Homo sapiens: one gene and its partner. The protein of the gene in region 1 purifies or fractionates together with the protein of each later gene. This does not show direct contact. Each region holds a gene or a part of one and is shown on either strand. Other genes may lie near its edges.

Region 1 (5,404 bases):
CATCACTGACTGAAACATTGTTATGCGGTGTGGGACTGTATTTGGCTAAACTAGTAAGGTATGCTAATCATCCCTTATATTTCCTCTTTGTTGCAACTAGCACTATTACTTCTGTTTATCCTTTTGTACTTTGTAGGCTGTGTTTTAGTCAGTCACCTTTAATCCTCTCTGGAAAATGAGGAGCATGTGTGAATAAATGAAGCAAGCAGGCAAGCTCTGGGTAGACAGGAACTTTCTGCTTGTTCAGCCACATATCCCCAGCATCTTGTACAGTGAAGGACAGAGTGATACCAAAAATACTTAACAATCAGGAAAATACAAAGATACTAATCAGATAGAATTGTGCGGCTGAGCATGGTGGTTCATGCCTGTAATCCCAGTGCTTTGGAAGGGCTGAGGTAGAAGGATTGCTTGAGCCAAGAGTTTGAGACCAGCCTGGGCAATATAGCAAGAATTTGTCTCTTAAAAAAAAAAAAATTAGCTGGGCATGATGGTGTGCTGCCTGTAGCCGTAGCTACTCAGGAGGCTGAGGTAGGAGGGTCGCTTGAGCTCAGGAGTTCCAGGTTGCAGTGCGTAATGATTGTGCCACTGCACTCCAGCATGGGTGACACAGTGAGACCCTCTCTCTGAAGGAAAAAAATTGTAGAGGGAGAAGGGTGTCTGAAGGGTCCCAGAAAAGGGTCCTTCTGGAAAAGGAATGTTACTCAGGTGTTACAGAGCAGCAGCTGTTTACCAACCAACACGGAAGCATTTAAATATTTTTACAAACTCAATACAAATTTGAGTAAGTATTTCTGGTGGCCCTTAAAGTCTTCACTGTGACACACTGTGCTGTCTGGCTAAGTTCTCCAGAGAAAGCACGGCCAGCTTTGTCTCCTCAAGCAGAGGCACGCAGAAGGCAGGGAAGGTGACCCCCCTCTTGCCATCGCAGGCAGCAGTTAGGAGCACAAACACAAGCTGTGCCAGAAAACAGTGGGTGATTCAGTCCATACTTGAGCAAGAGAAGAGATGGGACAAGATGCCCTCTAAAATTCCTCTAGTGAGAGGCAAAGACACACAAGAAATATGAGTAAACCTCACAAGAAAAAGTAGAAACCAACTCAACCTCGACAGAAAAATGCTAATTAACTATTGAGATCGTAATCCACATGTGAGAAAGGAACATTTCGTCAAGTGAGTCAACAAAAACCATGGAGCATGCACCAACAGATATATGCTAAGTCAGAGGTTTTATAAGATCCTGGTGAAAAAGGACAGAAAGTAGCCCTGTGATTACAGAGGGGAAAGCCAATTCTCTGATGAGTGGTTCAACATTTTTTTTTTTTTTCCTGAGATGGAGTCTTGCTCTGTTGCCCAGGCTGGAGTGAAGTGGCATGATCTTGGCTCACTGCAACCTCTGCCTCCCAGGTTCAAACGATTCTCCTGCCTCAGCCTCCCAAGTAGCTGGAATTACAGGTGTGCGCCGCCACGTCCAGCTAATTTTTGTATTTTAGTAGAGATGGGGTTTCACCGTGTTGCCCAGGCTGGTCTCAAACTCCTGAGCTCAGGCAATCTGCCCACCTCGGCCTCCCAAAGTGCTGTAATAAGCATGAGCCACCATGCCCAGGTGACACACCACTTTTTAAAAATCACCAAGCGTGGCATCCATTGATGGCCTCCAGTACCTTTCTCCTTTTCCTCCTTTTAATTACAGCAACCCCCAAGCTTCAGCAGGGCACATAACTGCCTAGCTAGAGACTACATTCCCCAGCCTCCCTTGCAGAGAAGTGTGTCATGTAACTAAGCTTGGGCCAATGGGATAAGGACAGAAGTGATCCTAGAGCATCTCCTTAAAGCCACTTGCCAGGTATTCCCACTCCACCTTCCCTTCCCTTCCCTCTGGCTGGCAAATGGTGATGCCTGGAGCAACCTTGTAAGTCATGTGTCATGGACAGCAGAGCTGCCCATCAGCCTGGGATAGCTAATATTAGACTGAAAACAGAAAAATAAAATCTTGTTAAGCCACTTAATTTTTTTGTGGAGGGCAGAGAATGATGATGGGGGTATTATACTAAAATAGCACCTAACTAACCACTGTTCACACCTTCTCCTCTTACCTACCTTCATTTTATATCCAATACATTTGCATGTCCCCCTTATAATCTCTGCTTTTGAATCTGCCATTACTGAACTTCCACTATTCCTTACTTAACTGAACTAAATCACATAGCTGAACTCCTTTGAAAGCATGGGCTCTCTTGATGGAATACTGATAGTGCAGTGTGGGAGAGGGGGGAGTGGATTCAAAGGTCCTGCTTCTCATCCTGGGGGGTGGGGTAGGGCTTAGACAAACACTCAGGTCCACTGACAAAGACCTGCAGCCAAAAGTAACTCCCTAAAAATAAAATAAAGGCTAATATTAGGACTTGTTTAGTTCCCTGCTTAAGGTCTTATAGCTTCCCCACCGCAAATTTAAAACTCAGTTAATATAATGAAGGCAACTGGCATCATGGGTAAGAGTGCAGACCCTGGAATCAGAACCAATCTGGGATTCAGCCCCATACCTGCTATTGATATGACCATGGGCAAATTAACTACTCTGTCTCAGTTTCCTTTCCTGTCAAATGGGGATAATAGGGCCCTCACAGGGTAGCTATGAAAATTCAAGAAAATAGTATGTGTTGAGTTACTTTGTAGACATACTACTAGAGGACTCACTAAATGTTAGTTCTTTTTTTTGAGACAGGGTCTCGCTCTTTCATTCAGGCTAGAGTGCAGTGGTGTGATCACGGCTCACTACAACCTCCACCTCAGCACTTCCTGGGCTCAAGTGATGCTCCCACATCAGCCTCCCAAGTAGCTGGGACTACAGGTGCATACCACCACACCTGACTAGCTTTTTGTATTTTTAGTAGAGACACGGTTTTGCCATTTGGCCCAGGCTGGTCTCAAACTCCTGGGCTCGAGCAATCTGCCCACCTTGGCCTCCCAAAGTGCTAAGATTACAGGTGTGTATTAGTCCATTTTCACGCTATTGATAAAGACATACCCGAGACTGGGCAATTTACAAAAGAAACAGGTTTAATGATTTACAGTTCCACGTGGCTGGGGAGGCCTCACACTCATGGCAGAAGGCAAGGAGGAGCAAGTCACATCTTACATGGATGGCAGCAGGCAAAGAGAGACAGATTGGGCAGGGAAAATCCCCCTTATAAAACTGTCAGATCTTGTGAAACTTATTCACTATCACAAGAACAGCACGGAAAGACCTGCCCCCATGATTCAATTACCTCCCACTGGTCCCTCCCACAACATGTGGGAATTCAAGATGAGATTTGGGTGGGGACACAGCCAAGCCATGTCGAGGCATAAGCCACCACACCCAGCCACTAAGTGTTAGCTGTTATGATAACTCTATGCCTTTCCACATGCAATTCCCTCTGCCTGAAATAACTTTCTCCTTTTGTTCACCTAGGGAATTCCTTCACATTCATTGTAACTTATGCTCTGTGAGGCCTTCCCAGCAACTCAATCTGCCAGGAGCAATCAATCTCCTTCATCTGTGCTACTGCAAAGTCACATATATCAATTCTACTTATCATAGTATATTGCACTTGGGTGTTTAAATTTCTGACCCTCCTCACTATGGACATGACTCATGTCTTATTCACTGCTAAATCCCAAGTACTTGGCAGAATACACATTATAGGGTCTCATACATGTTTGCAATAATGAACTGAATACATCCTTGAATTCACTCTAGAATCAAATGACCTCTCCTCTGTATTAGAAATTTGGCCTAACAGGCCAGGCAAGGTGGCTCACGCCTATAATCCCAGCACTTTGAGAGGCTGACGTAGGTGAATCACCTGAGGTCAGGAGTTTGAGACCAGCCTGACCAACATGGTGAAACCTCATCTCTACTAAAAATACACAATTAGCCGGGCATGGTGGCGCATGCCTGTAATCCCAGCTACCTGGTAGGCTGAGGCAGGAGAATCACTTGAACCCAGGAGGCAGAGGTTGCAGTGAGCCGAGATCACGCCACACTGCACTTCAGCCTGGGCGACAGAGTAAGACTCCGTCTCAAAAAAAAAAAAAAAAAGAAAAGAAAAAGAAATTTGGCTTAACAATTATGTCATTCTTTCTATAAAAAGAATTGTCCTAGCAAATTAAATCGATGCATAATTGTCATTGCTGATATTCTAAAAGGCAGTTATCTGAACATGAACATCTATAGAAATGTTCTCTAATGGACTTTTCTTGTCTAACATTTCTTCACATTCCTTTAAAAATTGTTGGCAGGTGCAATTCAGAAGATCTTAAAAATTACAGTAATTGAAAATGTATTGACTTTGTAATAACGAAGAAGTTATTAGCATTTTAAAGAGAGAAAAGAGTTATAAAGAATACTTAGCATGTACACTGAAAGCTTTAAAGTCTTTTCATTTGTTTCTCCTAATTGCCTTATGACAGTGAAAACAGCTGTATTCCTGTTACATGGGAGGTCAAACATGATCAATTCTAAAGCAGACTCTACATTGTGGCTAACTTTGGTGGCACTTACAGTGGTCACTGAATCCAGACTTCAAAAAAATACATTAATATTATATGTTAGAATTTTCTAAAGGGAAAAGAAATGTATGTAAGGATCCACCTTTGAGGAGGATGAATATTATCATTCTCCTTAAAGAACTTTACAAAAGTTTCTAATGACAGTGACCATAAATAGACTTAAAAAGTAGAAGACATTTTTTAAAAGAGAGATTTAAAATACCAGGCATTAAAATAATTAAAATACCTCGATGCAGATGTGATGCATTCCTCCAGCCTTGTTTTTCTGCAGAAAACCTGCAATTGGACTGTCACGTCCCAATGGATGAAGCAGTTCCATCTTGGTATTTCCCAGGTTGACAAAAACAACAGATACTCCATGTTCAGGAAGAGGGACCGCTTCACTTACCTGGGCCCCCAGAATATTCTTATAAAATGCTGCAGCCTTTTCCAAATCTGGCACTGCTATGGCTACATGGTTGAGTCGACCCAGGTTCCACACAGAACCTGTCACTTGATCCAAGGGCTGTGATGTGGAAGAAGCTCTTACTGTTGGAATGGGAGCTTGAAGTCTGGAAAAAAGCCCTGAAAAATTGAACAGCCATTGATATCCTTCTTTTGAGAATTAACGCACTTCTAAATTGAATTTTAAAAACTAAACAAATAATGCATGCAAAAATTCATTATTTATATATCTGTTCTTTTTAATTATTGAAATGAAACCAGGAGATAAATGGAAAAACTTACATCAGAATTACTCTGCTCTGCCCATTCAAATAACTGACTGGAATAAAAAAGCTAATTCTGAGCTGCAGTTAGATTTAAAACACAGGATAACATTTTTTCATAACAATTCATATTTACTGGTAAC
Region 2 (3,986 bases), on another chromosome or scaffold:
CACAACTCGTATTGAACTATTCATGGGTCGGGGCAGCATAAACCACCACGCTTAACATTTATTGAGTGCCTCCCATGTGCTGAGTACTTTCTTTTCAGACAGGCCAGGCATGGTGGCTCTGGCCTGTAATCCCATCACTTTGGGAGGCTGAGGTGAGTGGATTGCTTGAGGTCAAGAGTTTGAGACCAGCCTGGTCAACATGACGAGACCCCCTCTCTACTAAAAATACAAAAATCAGCTGGACATGGTGGCACACGTAGTCCCAGCTACTTGGGAGGCTGAGGCACAAGAATCACTTGAACCTGGGAGGCGGAGGTTGCAATGAGCCAAGATCACACCACTGCACTTCAGCCTAGGTGACAGAGAGACCTTGTCTCCAAAAAAAAAAAAAAAAGAAAGAAAAAAAGAAAAATAGCCTTTTTAGACATCATCTTTTTTTCTTTTTTTTTTGAGATGGAGTTTCACTCTGTCACCCAGGCTGGAGTGCAGTGGCACGATCTCAGCTTACTGCAACCTCCGCCTCCCAGGTTCATGCGATTCTCGTGCCTCAGCCTCCCAAGTAGCTGGGACTACAGGCATGTGCCATCATGTCCAGCTAAACTTTTTTTGTGTGTATTTTAGTAGAGACGGGGTTTCATTATGTTGCCCAGGGTGCTCTCGACCTCCTCAGCTCAGGCAATCCGCCCACCTTGGCCTCTCAAAGTACTAGGATTACAGGCCATGAGCCATGGTGCCCGGCCCAGACATCATCTTTACATTTACAATTTCCCTGTGGAACATACACGTTAGCCCTCTTCAACACACGGGAAACTGATGGGAAAGGTGAAGTAATTTGTCCAAGGTCACACAGCAAATAAGTGGAACAATCGAGCTCTGAAGCTAAATAAATTTGATGTCAAAGACCCTAGAAATAGGAGAAATAATCCCTAATTTCAAAGAGTTTACAACGTATGTGAGAAAATAAACACACATACAAACACACTCAAGCATGGACATGCATGCTCTAACTTTTTGTAATAAGAGGCATAGGCTTCTTTAATATAGTCCATAGGTTTACGAAAAAAAAAAAAAAGAGACATAGGCAGTACGTGATAAAGGAGTTTAAGCAGGCCGGGCACAGTGGTTCATAGCTGTAATCTCATTGCACTCCAGCCTAGGCAACAAGAGCAAAATTCTATCTCAAAAAAAAAAAAAAAAAAAAAGGAGTTTAAGTAGAGGGGTCTGGTGGGCTTTTTTTTCACGTTAGTGTGACCTGGGAAGGCTTCTTGGAGGAAGATTTAAGCTGCACTGTGCATAATAAGCATACATAATAAAAGAGCAGAAGGGCACTTTTAAGGCAGAGGAAACAGCATAAATAAACTACAGCAGAAATTGACTTAGCATATCTGCTGGGACATTGAGCGGCTTGATTTGGCTTGACCAAAGGTATAAAAGAGAGCAATGGAAACAGCTCAAGGAGGAAATGGTTGATGACTATAATGTCAGTATAAGGAGTTTGAACTCATACATTATGGGTTATTGAAGAAAAAGGATTAGGAAATTAGTAGTGGTTTATTGAATAGATTATAACAGATAAAATCTGGAGAGAAAGGGAGAAGTCAAGAAACTATTACATACCAAAATTATCAAAAAAGGATTTTTTTAAAAAAATAACTATTACCGTATTCCTCTCTTATCTCCTTATGTGCAGTGGACACGTTCAAGATCCCCCGGTGGGTGCCTAAAACCATGGACAGTACTGAATCCTACATATTCTACATATACCGTGTTTTTCCTATATATACATACCTATGATAAAGTTTAATTTATAAATCAGACACAGTAAGACAGTAATAATAATAACTGATAATAAAATAGAAAAATTATAATAATATACTGTAATAAAGGTTTTGTGAATGTGGTCTCTCTCTCAAAATATCTTACTGTACTGTGCTCACCTATTTTCAGACTACAGTAGATCATGGCTAACTGAGACCACAGATAAGAAGGGGAGAGTACTGTATAGTATTTGAGACACAAAGCAACAGGCTCCTGACTGAGGTAATTAATAGTAGAAAAAGAAAAAAAGCAACAAAAGTACCATAGGCAGTATATGATTAATATAATAGTAATTGAATGGCTCTGAGGAGAAGGCTAAAAACACTGTGAAGTTGCTGAATAGATGGATTAACAGGCAACAGGAAAGAGGAGAAGAAATAATTTTTCAAGCTAGAATTCTAAATTTTTTTTCTAGAAACAGACTATTAGACTAGTAAATTATATTTTTTAATTTTCTTCAAAGACAGGGTTGGCTGGGTGCAGTGGCTCACACCTGTAATCCCATCTCAAATAATAATAATAATAATAAAATAAAGACAGGGTCTCACTTTTTTGCCCAGGATGGTCTTAAACTCCTGGGCTGAAGCAATCCTCCTGTCTCAGTCTCCCAGAATGCTAGGATTACAGGTGTGAGCCACCACACCCAGCTAGACTAGTAAATTAAGCATAAGGCTTTAAACCTCCAATTTTAAAAAGGCATGCTTATGGAATTATCAGTTTTATATATTTTATATTTGAAGCAATTCTAAATTCATCTATGAACAATACTAAAGACACCTAGTTCTATGGGGACCATCTGTACCAATTTGCCTGAGGTGACACCCAATTCACCTCTAGTGATTCAAGGCAATTATTAATAACACCATTTTCATTCTCAAATACATCCTGGTTGAACAACTATACGTGTAGTCTAAGTCTTAATGCAATTATTTGACTAAAATAGGTCTTTCCTTGATTTTAAAAATAATTCAGCCAGGTGCAGTGACTCATGCCTGTAATCCCAACATTTTGGGAGTCCAAAGCAGAAGGATCACTGGAGCCCAGGAGTTCAAGACCATACTGGGCAATGCATTGAGACTTTGTCTACTAAAAATCAAAATAATTAGTTGGCTGTGGTGGTGAATGCCTGTAGTCCCAGCTACTTGGGAGGCTGAGGAAGGAGGACCACTTGAGCCCAGGAGGTCAAGACTGCAGTGAGCCAAGATCATGCCACCACACTCCAGCCTGGGCAACAGAGCAAGAACTTGTCTCAAAAATAATAATAAATAAAATAAAAAATTAGGCCAGGTGCAGTGGCTCATGCCTGTAATCCCAGCACTTTGGGAGACTGAGGCAGGTGGATCACGAGGTCAAGAGATCAAGACCATCCTGGCCAACACAGCGAAACCCCGTCTCTATTAAAAATACAAAAATTAGCTGGGCATGGTGGCGCGTGCCTGCCCAGTTACTTGGGAGGCTGAGGCAGGAGAATCGCTTGAACCCGGGAGGCGGAGGTTGCAGTGAGCTGAGATTGCACCACTGCACTCCAGCCTGGTGACAGAGTGAGACGCCGTCTCAAAAAAAATAAAAATAAAAAATTAATAATTCAATATCACAACCAGGACAGAAGAACATAAAGGGAAATGAAACTGTTCACCAAAGTAGCGTATTAAGGAAATATTTAATAATAATTCAATAGGCAGCTGTTGAGCACTCCTAAAGTCAGACATTGTACTGGACTTGGAAATGCAAAGCTAAATAAGATGCAATATATAGTTCCTGAATTCAAATTGCTTACACTTTACTACAGGAAGACAGACACAACAGAAAAATTCCAAATGGCATGATTAATCAAGAGTCAAATGCATTATGTCCTAGGGAAATGTAAAACACAACATTATAAGGCTATTTTAATAATTTACTACGGGGGTAAGAACTGTTTTTGCTTACAACTTTTTAGAAGAGTTTACAAACCTGACTTTTTTTTTTACTGAGTCATTTAAAAAATATTTATGCACACCTACAATGTGCCAGGCACTTGGGATTATACAGAGAACAAAACAGATGCAATTTCTTCCCTTATAGAATGCACAGTACAGTGAAAGGTAAAGACAAGTAAACCGGTGATTATAACACGTGCTATAATGAAGGAAATAGAGTGTGTTAAGGGAACCTAGCTGGAGAAAGTT

What was found. Proteins that work in one complex are often made in the same cells at the same time.
Region 2: the proteins of MCEE (region 1) and DBT purify together in Homo sapiens (co-immunoprecipitation; 2 studies listed by BioGRID and IntAct, with this or other methods). This does not show direct contact.

The regions. Positions count from the first base shown.
Region 1 is NC_000002.12:71,119,426-71,124,829, forward strand, and holds part of MCEE (methylmalonyl-CoA epimerase, mitochondrial precursor), read right to left. Parts: intron 5,119-5,404; coding exon 4,781-5,118; intron 1-4,780. UniProt on the Homo sapiens protein: Methylmalonyl-CoA epimerase involved in propionyl-CoA metabolism.
Region 2 is NC_000001.11:100,242,883-100,246,868, forward strand, and holds part of DBT (lipoamide acyltransferase component of branched-chain alpha-keto acid dehydrogenase complex, mitochondrial isoform 1 precursor), read right to left. Parts: intron 1,721-3,986; exon of another isoform or gene 1,661-1,720; intron 1-1,660. UniProt on the Homo sapiens protein: The branched-chain alpha-keto dehydrogenase complex catalyzes the overall conversion of alpha-keto acids to acyl-CoA and CO(2).